Linked DNA regions of Homo sapiens: region 1 is linked to region 2. Evidence: fine-mapped expression QTL. A gene starts in region 2. The other region holds a variant in brackets. All regions are shown on one strand. Distances are from middle to middle.

The links. PIP is the estimated chance that this variant, and not a neighbour inherited with it, causes the effect.
Region 1: its variant is the best candidate, but not a certain one, in a credible set for the expression of PLAAT4 in whole blood (INTERVAL, PIP 0.60).

What each region holds. Positions count from the first base shown.
Region 1 is chr11:63,569,294-63,574,666 of GRCh38, reverse strand. PLAAT3 (phospholipase A and acyltransferase 3) reads left to right here. Exons shown (of 5, transcript NM_001128203.2): 5 at 1-205. Among named protein-coding and RNA genes, the nearest start is that of PLAAT2, 8.6 kb to the right of the region's middle. The variant CTTTT/T (reference allele first, on the strand shown) is at 2,727.
Region 2 is chr11:63,533,935-63,539,307 of GRCh38, reverse strand. PLAAT4 (phospholipase A and acyltransferase 4) reads right to left here and starts at 2,500. Exons shown (of 4, transcript NM_004585.5): 1 at 2,431-2,500. The coding sequence starts at 2,439. RefSeq lists enhancers at 2,552-2,601, 4,259-4,348.

The DNA of each region.
Region 1 (5,373 bases), 35 kb before region 2:
AGAGTCCAGCTCCAGTTATCTCAAGTAGAGGGCGTTTCTGGTCGTCAGGATACATGCGGGGCGGAAGGGAGACAGAAAGACATAATACACAAGAACAGAAAGCAGCAGACAGCCAGGACCCTTGGCCCGGAACTAGATCTAGGATGGCCTCTGAGACTCAGCAGCTGGAGTCTGTAGATGTTCAGCTGAGTTGAAAAAAAAAAAGTCCTCGGCTATAAGGAAATTTAGTATAGATGCTTGCCAATCTTACTAAAATTTCCCTTATTTTCCTTTGCTCTACACGTCTTTCCTTTGCCTTGTTGCTTCCATCTCCTTGGCACTCCTGCTTCCTCACTGCTTCTGCTTGCCATGATCCCCAAGTCTCTGACCCACCTTCCTGCCTGCTCCTCTCCTCCCACATTGGCTCAGATTCTTTCCCCGCTGTCTGTGGGTCCACACTCCCAGTGGCACCTCCAGGAGAGAATCTGATTGGCTCAGTTCGCCAGATAACTCAACTTTCCCATTGGCTACCTTTGGGTCAGGTGATCTCCACTAGACCTATCGCCTATGCCTGATGGTGGGTCACATGGTGCAAATGTTGCCTGAGAGCTTAGTGGATTAGGGATGTGGCTGGGCTCATGGTTGACGTCCCTGCTGCTGAGCCCTTACGGGTCAGGCTGGGAGAAGGTACCATGTTGTGTGACTGGTCATTTGAGGTCTTGCAGCTGTTGCTTGCTGGGCTTGGCAGGTGTTCAAAGTGACCATTTTTCTGAAGGGTTTTTTTCTGAGTATTCCTCAGATGTACTCCCCTGGGGCCGACGGTCTTTCCTTCCACAGGGCGATGCTTCCCTACTTGCTTGTGAATGTTTCCTTCATCTCCAGGTTGTCTGGGGACAATTCTGTCTTTTGGAGGCCTGGGCAGGATTTACAGAGGGCTCCATGCCAGCTCCTTCCTGCCGGGTCCACTTCTGGTGTAGGGTAAACACCTGCCCATTCATGTCCTAGTGTTGATAGAATAATCATTTTCTTTCAGTACAGTTTCCTTTTTTTTTTTTTTTGCCCCGGCTTTTTAGATGTAGCACTTAATGCCAGTTCTCGAGCTCCCCAAACTTAAGGGACACAGGTCAACAAGCAGTAGGTCTTTGGAAGCTCGCTCTCTCACATGGTATAAGGTGAGGGGGACACATGGAATGTAAACCTCCAAACTAATTATGGGGGAAAAAGGAATGAGAAAAACAAACACAAGAAGGCAAAACAAAAACACCTGGTTCAATTAAAAACAACAACAAAGCAAAACAAAAAAAACCCAAAACCAAACCACACAATAAATGAGAAAAAAATTACATAAAACAGATGACATGTATAGAAATAAAAAAATAGAATGGAGGAACTAATTCCAAATATATAAGTAATCCTAAGTGGACTAAATTTGCAAAGTAAAAGGCAAACATTACACTGGATTAAAAAACAAATCCAGGGAATACAGTTTACAGCTGATACATTCAAAATATAAAAACAGATAAAATATAAATAAAATCGGTACAGTGGTGTCTGCCTGTAATCCCAGCTAGTTGGGAGGCTGAGGCAGGAAGACCCCTTGAGTCTAGGAGTTAGAGAACAGCTTGGGCAACAAAGCGAGACTGTCTCTAAAAAAATACACACACACACACACACACACACACACACACACACACACACACACACACACACACACACACACACACACACAAAGACTGAAATGGAAATGAGCCGAGATCGCGCCACTGCACTCCAGCCTGGGCAACAGAGTGAGACTCTGTCTCAAAAAAAAAAAAAAAAAAAAAAAAGAAAAAGAAAATATAGGCTTTAAAGCAAGTTATTACTAGACAGAGGACAAAAAAATTCTGATAAAAGTTTTAATTCACTAGAAATATATAACTTGCTTGCATTTAATAAGTCTCAAAATAATGAAATTTTTGACTGATTGCAAAGAGGAATTCATCATCTGCTGTTTATAACAGAATACCTGAAAGTGGGTAATTAATGAGAGATGATTTGACTTCTTATAGATCTGGAGGCTGAGAAGTCCAAGGTTAAGGGGGTGCATCCGGTGAGGGCCTTCTTGCTGGTGGGGACTCTCTACAGAGTCTGGAGGCAGCACAGGGCATCCCATAGTGAGGAGGCTGAGTGTGTTAGCTCAGTTCTCTCTTCCTCTTTTTATAAAACCACCAGTCCCATTCCTGTGATAAACCACTAATTCATTAACTCATTAATCCATGAATGGGTTAATCCATTCATGACGGTGGAGCCTTTATGATCCAATCACCAATTAAAGGCTCTTTATTTTTTCTTTCTTCTTTTTCTTTCTTCTTTTTCTTTCCCTCCTTCCTTTCTTTCCTTCCTTCCTTTTCTTTTCTTTCTTTCCTTCCTGTCTTTCTTTTCTTCTTTTTCTTCTTTCTCTTTTCCTTCCTTCCTCCCTCCCTCTCTTTCTCTCTTTCTTTCTTCCTCTTTCTCTGTTCTTTCTCTCTTTTCCTTCCTTCCTTCCCTTCCTTCCTCTCTTTCTTTCTTCCTTTCTTTCTCTCTTTCTTTCGTTTCTTCCTTTCTTTCTCTCTTTCTCTCTTCCTTCCTTCCTTCCCCTCCCTCCTTCTCTCCCTCCCTCCTTCCTTCCTTCCTCTCTCTGTCTTTCTTCTATCTTTCTTTCTCTCTTTCTCTTTCTTCCTTCCCCTCCCTCCCTCCCTTCCTCCTCCTTTCTTTCTTTTTCTTTCTTT[CTTTT/T]CCTTTCTTTGTTTCTTCCTTCCTTTCTTTCTCTTTCTTTCTTTCTTTCTTTTCCTTTCTTTGTTTCTTCCTTTCTTTCTCTCTTTCTTTCTTTTGCTCTCTCTTTCTTTCTTTTCTTTTCCCCTCCCCTCTCCTCTTTTCTTCTCTCCTCTCCTCTCCTTCCTTTCCTTTCTTCCTTTTTTTTTTGAGATAGAGTCTCACTCTGTCACCCCGGCTGGAGTGTAGTGGTGGGATCTCGGCTTACTGCAACCTCTGCCTCCTGGGTTCAAGCAATTCTCCTGCCTCAGCCTCCTGAGTAGCTGGGATTATGGGTGTGTGCCACCATGCTTGGCTAATTTTTCTATTTTTAGTAGAGATGGGGTTTCACCAAGTTGGCCAGGCTAATCTTGAACTCTTGACCTCAGGTGATCTGCCTGCCTCGGCCTCCCAAAGTGTTGGGATTACAGGCATGAGCCGCCACACCCTGCCAAAAGACCCATCTTTCAATACTGCCACATTTGGGATTAAGTTTCAACATGAAGTTTGGAGAGGACAAACATCATCATAGTGGGAGATCTAAATACACCTTTCTAAGGAACTGATGAATGAAGGAAACATAGAAGTCTATAAAGACATAGAAAATTTACCAACAAGCTTACTTAATGACCATATATAATATAATTGTGAAATACAGATTCTTTTCAACTGCACACATGGAATATTTATGAGAGTCTTAAAGCAAGCCAACAAATTTTAGATTAGTAACGTAGAAATAATCTTCTTTAACCGTAAAGCAATTAATTCAGGAATCAATAGCGAGAGATAACCAGAAAAACCCTATACTTTCAGGAATTTTAGAATATACTGCTAGATACATTATGAGTCAAAAAAAGAAAACTAATGGGAGTTAGATAATATTTAGAGCTGAATGATAACAAAAATACTAGATACCAATATTTGGACCATGCAGCTAAAGGGGTGCTTAGAAAAAATTTTGTAGCATAAATCCTTACATTAAGAAAGGAAAAGGTGACTTGGCATGGTGGCTTATGCCTGTAATCCCAGCACTTTGCAAGGCTGAGGTGGGAGGATCGCTTGAGGCTAGGAATTCAATACTAGCCTGGAGAAAAGAAAAGAAAAAGAGAAAGAAAGCAAAAGAAGAAGAGAAAAAGAAAGAAAGGAAGGAGAGGTGCAAGTTAAGGAGTTAATTATCCAATTTAAGAAGACAGAAAAAGGGGAAGACAATACAAAGATATGAGCAAAAATAAATGAAGAAAAACAAGCATATAAAAGAGAGAAGGCACAGCAAATGATTTAGGAGTAAAAAAGAGACCACAACTATAGATGCTGCAGAGATTAAACCAGCAAAAACAAATATTGATAAATAATTATAAAAAATTGGAAAATTTTGATGGAATTGATATATTCCAAGAAAAATGTCATCAAAATTGAACCAAGAAAATATTTAAAAATCTAAGCAGTCCTTTGCTCATTAAAGGATAAATCAGTAGTTAACACTTTTTCTACAAAGAAATGGTGTGCCTGGATGGTCGTGTAGGTGAGTTTTACCAAGGATTATGGTAACAAATGAGTGAGACCTCTATGGAGAAAATATTGAAGGACATTAAAGAAGACCTCATAAATGGAGAGAGATATATCATTAATGGATAGGAAGCCTCAATGGCATAAGTATGTCAGTTTCTTTCAAAACTCACCTATGGATTCAATGTGATTCCAAACCAAATCCCAACAAGGTCTTTCCTGGAATTGGAAGCCAGATTCTGAAATGTATTTGGAAAAGTAAAGAGGCAGGGTTAGCTATTTCATTAACAAAGAAGGAACATCAGGCAGGGAGACTTGTGTTATTATTAAGGCTTATTATAAATTATTATTGTGATCAAGATAGTGTATTTTTGGTGTAGAGATAGTTAAATTGGCCAATGGATTGAGCCAAATTTCCAAAACAGACCCACAAATAAATGAAACTCTAATTTACAACAGAGACAGTACTGCAGATCATGGGGGGAAAGGATGAACTATTGAGGGATTGGCAAACTTTTTTGGTAAGGGCTAGACAGCCTTACGTGGTGTTCACAGTGTCTGTTGTAGTTAGTCACCTCTGCTGTGGTATTGTAAGAGCAGCTATAGACAATACTGTACGTGAACAAATGATCATGGATATGTTCTAATAAAACTTTATGTGCATTGAGATTTAAATTTCATATAATTTTCATGGGTCATGAGTTATTAGCTTTCTTTTTGTTTTTCTCAGCCATTTAAAATGCAGAAACCATTATTAGCTACTGGGCTGTACAAAAACGGGCAAAGGAGACCAGGCATGGTGGTTCACACCTATAATCCCAGCACTTTGGGAGGCAGAGGCAGGAGGATTATTTGAACTGGGCAACATAGTGACACCCAGTGTCTATTACAAACAAAACAAAAACAGATGAAGGCCTGCATTTGCCTGTAGGCTATAGTTTGTTGATCCCTAACTAGTAAATGGTATTCACATATAACCACATGGACTTTGCACTGCACAGAAAAAGTCAGTTTGGGGAGAATTTCAGACTTACATGTGAAGGACAGATGTCAATTTTTATTTTTATTTTATTTTTGAGACAGAGTCTCGCTCTGTTGCCCAGGCTGGAGTGCAGTGGCATG
Region 2 (5,373 bases):
TGGGAGACAGAAGGACCGTCTGGGCGCATGTGTGACATGTGTGTGCTGTGTGTGTGCATGCTGAGGATGCAGATGTGTGTGCATGTGTGCATTGTACACATGCTCCTCAGTAGGCCGACTCAAGAGCCTGCATGAACCAGCACCTTCACTGAGGCCAGGAGCAAGGCTGGGAAGGTGAGTCTTGAGCTCTCCGCCCTCTGCAGACTGACCCTCAGTTCCTCATCACTCCTGCCCTGTGCCTCTCCATGGCCCCAAGAGCCACCTCCTCCTCAGACCTTGCCCCATCCAGCCTCAGGACACCTATCTCTTGGAGATGACACCCTGGGAGACAGGAGCTCACAGCATCCTGCTGGGACCTGAGTGGGGTCTTGTGGGGCCCCCCAGCTCCCAGCACTGAGGGGGCTCTGCACTCACAGAACAGGCCTCTGTGGGAACTTGTCCTACAATAACTGCACCATCTCCACAGCCCCAGGGGAAGGCATGATCATCCCATTGCACAGATGGGGAAACTGAGGATCAGAGAGGTGGCAGGGCTTTCCTGAGAACACTCAGCTGGAAGGAGGCCGAGCTGGTTCTTCCCTGCACACCCCTCACCCTGGTTCCTGTCTTGGCCACCTTCTTCCCCTTCCTCACCTCCTTCCCACTTCTCCATGTCCTGCCCCAGGGCATAGCAGCCTCATGACTGGAGGATTTTTCCATTTTCACCCTCTCTGTCCCTGTCCTCAGTGGGTGACAGCCTCCTCCTCCCTCATCCCAGGATGTCCCATCATAGACCTGGGGTCTGCTCTCCTTTGCCCTCTTCCTCATGCCAATATCCAGTCACTAAAACCAATCAATGTGGACTCCGGAAGCTTCTCCTTGTTGGTGTGCTTGTCAATATCCCATCCACTGACTTGGTTCAGGCAGCCCCATGCCTGCCTCTGTGACCCCCACAACCCCCTGACCAGCCCCTGCCTCCTGTCCCTGCCACTCCATATCCAACTCCTCAGAACCCATGGTGGCCTTCCCAAGGGCACATCTGGCCATGACCGTCCTCTGACCTCAGGGCCCAGGACACACCCTGTGGGCAGCTCCCAGGCCCTTCCTGACTGGCCCTTCCTCACCCTCCTCTCCCTCCCTGGGCTCTGCACCCACAGGCCCACTGAGTGACATCCCAGCCCCTCACTACTGCCCTGGCTCTGGTCTCTGCTGCTCTGCACATCTGGTTCTCCCTGCCTCCATCACTTCCCTGCAGCCACTCTTCCTCTTCCCCTCCCTCAAACCCCCTCACCTGAGAAGCTGCCCTGATGGCCCCAGCCTGGCTCAGCTGACCCGCCACCCCACTCCTAGGACCTGGGTCCCCGGGGGCCTCTGCTGCTCTCTGCAGGGGTCAAGTTGAGCTGCAATTCCCTGTGCCTCCCTGTGCCCCTCTGGGCTGTGAGCTCCAGGCAGGCAGGATCCTGTGTGCTCCTCCCTCCCTGCACCTCCAGGACCCAGTGAAGGGCCTGGCGTAGAATGGGGCAAGGAAATAGACAAGGAAGAGGGAGGAGAAAGGAGCAGGGCCAGGACTCCCTCCCAGCTCCTCCTCTGTATGTCAGGGCACCACAGGAGATGGTTTCCATGTGGGGAGAGAGAGGGGCTTTTAACTGCAATGCTGAATGTCTAAAACCACAGTCAAGGTACTGGCAACCTCAGCTGGTGGCCAGTGAGATATGAGCTTTGGCCTGGGCTCCCTGTTAAAAGCCCTGATTTGTTTTGGCAGCAGTAAAGCCCTTCCCCAGGATCAGGTGGTGCTGTTGGAGTGGGCTGCCCTCCAGAATTTGCAGGACTCCTTCCCGGAATGGTTTTGTTTCTAGTAATAGCCTGAGCCCCGCTGTTCCTTTTTAGTCACACACCACCGAGCTCAGCCTGCTCTCCCTAGAGCTTCTGCCAATCGGTACATCTGGGCTGATAGGAGGAGAAATTTCAGTTTTCAGAAAGCTGCTGAGATTAGAATGCACCTTAGAAGGCTGGATGATGCCACAGAGGAACGAGGAGAGAGAAAGCATCGTTTGGGGCCGAGAAGGGACTGAGCCCCAGTCACAGCAGAAGCAGACGATGTTGGGATTTGCTTGCTTCCCACAACCCAGAGTCCCCCACCTGCCCACACTCTGGCTTCTCCTCAGGCTGAGGTAGATTTGACACCCGGCACCCCACAGCTCTCTACTACATGGGAGTCCCGGGCTCCCCGCACTGTGCCAGTTACGCAGAGGAGGTGGACTCTGCCCAGAGGACTCCCTGTCCAGCTGGGCAGATGCACTTTTAAAAGACAAATACAGTTTTCCATGACAGCCTTCTAAAGACGAGCTCTGGAGCTGTGTGCCCAAGGCCAGGAGCCTGGACTGAGGCCTTTCCTAGGGGGAGCTGCCCAACTGCTGTAGAGTCAGTAATGCAAAGCCCTGGGAAACTTACCGAAGCCATCTCGAAGCCAAGAGGAGGTCTGGTGCTCCTCTTGTTTGTGGATCAGCTTTTATGCTGAAGGAGAGAATTTCACTTTCACTTTCCTTTTGACACTGTTTCAACCTCACTTAAATACTAAACACTGTTTAAAAGAGACAACTGTTTAAAAAGGAGCTATTTCTCTAGATGGAAGGACTAATCATTTCTTACACAAGCCATGGACTCATTGGTGCTTTAAAGCCACCTTGGGAGCAGCCAGAGTCGAAGGGGAGCCCTGAATTTCTGCCCTTGCTTGAGAAATAAAGGTCTTTTCTTTTTTTTTCTTTTTTGTTTGTTTGTTTGTTTGTTTGTTTGTTTTTTTGAGACAGAGTTTCGCTCTTGTCACCCAGACTGGAGTGCAATGGTGCGATCTCGGCTCATTGCAACCTCTGCCTCCCGGGTTCAAGTGATTCTCCTGCCTCAGCCTCCCAGGTAGCTGGGATTACAGGCACCTGCTGCCATGCCTGGCTCATTTTTCCATATTTAGTAGAGACGGGGTTTCACCATGTTGGCCAGGATGGTCTCGATCTCTTGACCTTGTGATCTGCCTCCCCGTCGGTCTCCCAAAATGCTGGGATTACAGGTGTGAGCCACCGCACCTGGCCAAAATAAAGGTCTCTTCTAAAAAGAACCCTGGGCAGCTCTTCCTACTCCAGGAAGGGGAGGCATTCGGAGGCAGGGAGATGTCAATCCCCAGTGCACCCCATAGGACATTGTCTTGTAAAGACACCCAGAAAATATTGGGCCAGAAGTCTTGGGAGAAGGCCAGAGGGGGTGTTTCATTCCATGGGGATGCCCTGGAGGTGAGGGGTACCTTAGACCATGTGGAGCCTGGGAGCTCATGGCCCCATTAAAATGCATTTGGGTGCAAGAAGCAGAACTAAACTCAAAAGGGCTTCAACAGCCTGGACACCCATTGTCTCGGTAACAGAAAGGCAGGAAGAGGGTGACTCAGGTTGGGTTTAGTGGCTCACCAAGGTCACCAAGGACTCAGCAGGCTGTCTCCATTGCACTGGTCCTGGGTCTGCACTGTTGCCCTGCAGGGACTCCCATGGCTGTAGCAGCCTTGAGTGGCCCATTTTTACCTGGCTATGCCCAAAAGATGGAGGGAAAGATAATTCTCATTTGTCTTTTTTTCAGGGAGTTAAGTCTTTCCCACAGTTCCCCAGATGACCTGTTCCCTTCTCCATTGGCCAGAACTGGGCCATATTTTCACACCCAACCAGAGGCCTAGACAGGTGGATCACTTGAGCCCACGAGTTCAAGACCAGCCTGGCCAACATGGCGAGACCCCGTCTCTGCTAAAAATACAGAAAAAAAAATTAGCCGGGCATGGTGGCATGTGCCTGTACTCTCAGCTACTTGGGAGGCGGAGATGGGAGGATCGCCTGAACCCAGAAGTCAGGCTGCAGTCAGCTGAGATTGCTCCACTGCAGTCTAGCCTGGGCAACTGGAGTGAAACCATGTCTCAAAGCAAAACAAAACAAAAAACCCCCATTTCTGTTGTTTAGGTTAGCATGCCTCTGGGTTTCACTCAAAACACTGTTGAACGATGTTGCTGTGTTTGGGCAGAGCTTCCAGGGACCGCTGTGGATATCATGAGGAAGCCTCAGAGCTTTCTCGGGCAGAGCTTCTACAGGTGTCTTGCCGTGGTCAGTTTCTTTGCTGTTTTTATGGCCCTCTGCAGGAGTGTCCATGGTCATTATCTCAGCCACCTTTTGGTTTCAGTTTCTCATCAGGTCTTGGGGGTGTCTGGCCACAGCAGATGTTATCTTATTACCTCAGTCCTTTATACCTATGTTTATCATTTTGAGGGTTCAGCAGTTTCACTGTGGGCTGAGTCACTTGTCGTAAGTGACTCCATTTTGAAATATTTAGGATCACAAAACTCTTTAAGGGGGCCCCCACAAGAGTCTGCATTCAACAATCCCAGAGTCTGGGTTTTTGCCTTGTGGCATAATAAAAATTTTTATTTTTAAATAAATTTATGCCTTGTAGCATAATAAAAGTTTATTTATGCCTTATGTGGCATGATAAAAAAATATATTTTTGGTCTTTGACCCCAGTTCCAGACACAGAGGTCCTAAGACCCTTGGAATTTCCTGAGTGATAGGATGTCATGTTATTCAGAAGGAGTCTCTGTCAAACAAATCTGAGTTTATGCTAATGAGGTGGCTCTTGGTTGAGGAGGGAGAGCTGGATAACTTCAGGTTGGGGACTGATCACCATTATTTAATCAGTAATGTCTACATTATGCAGCCTCCGTAGAAACCCCTACATGACGGGGTTGGGAGAGCTTTGGGGCAGGTGAACACAGATGTGGTGGGAGACTGGCCTGGCTGGAGAGGGCATGGTGGCAAAGATTCTCTGTGTGACCACATTTTAGTCAGGTTCCCAAACCTCTTCCTAGGCACATCTGTACTTCCTTGTAAAATCTAATTTTAGCAAAGGACCCTGCCAAGTCAGTTTAGCAGGAACTTCCCACCCTCAATATCTGACCGGGTTCATCCTTCTCACTGTCCTCCAGGTGATGTCTGATCACCCCGGCCTGTCTTCAGCAAGAATCCTGTTAGTGTGGTTTAACCAGAATCTCTCTTGCCCCTGAGGTTTCCTCTTTGTAATTTTGCATCCACTGACCTGTATGCTTCTCCTTGCCTATGAATTCCCACTTGCCCGTGCTGTGTTCAAGTTTGAGCCCCATCTCTCTCTCTTGCTGCAAAATCCCAGTGCAGTGGATATCAAGCTTGTATCATTAGATAATTTTTTCTTTAACAATGGAAGCTGTGCACAATCACTGCCCCCCATATTAGTTTCTTCTTAGTTTCTTCCATGTAGCTGTTGCTGAGTTGTATCCTTTATAATAAACTGACAATCATAAGTAAAGCAGTTTTCTAAATTTTGGAAGTTGTTCTAGGG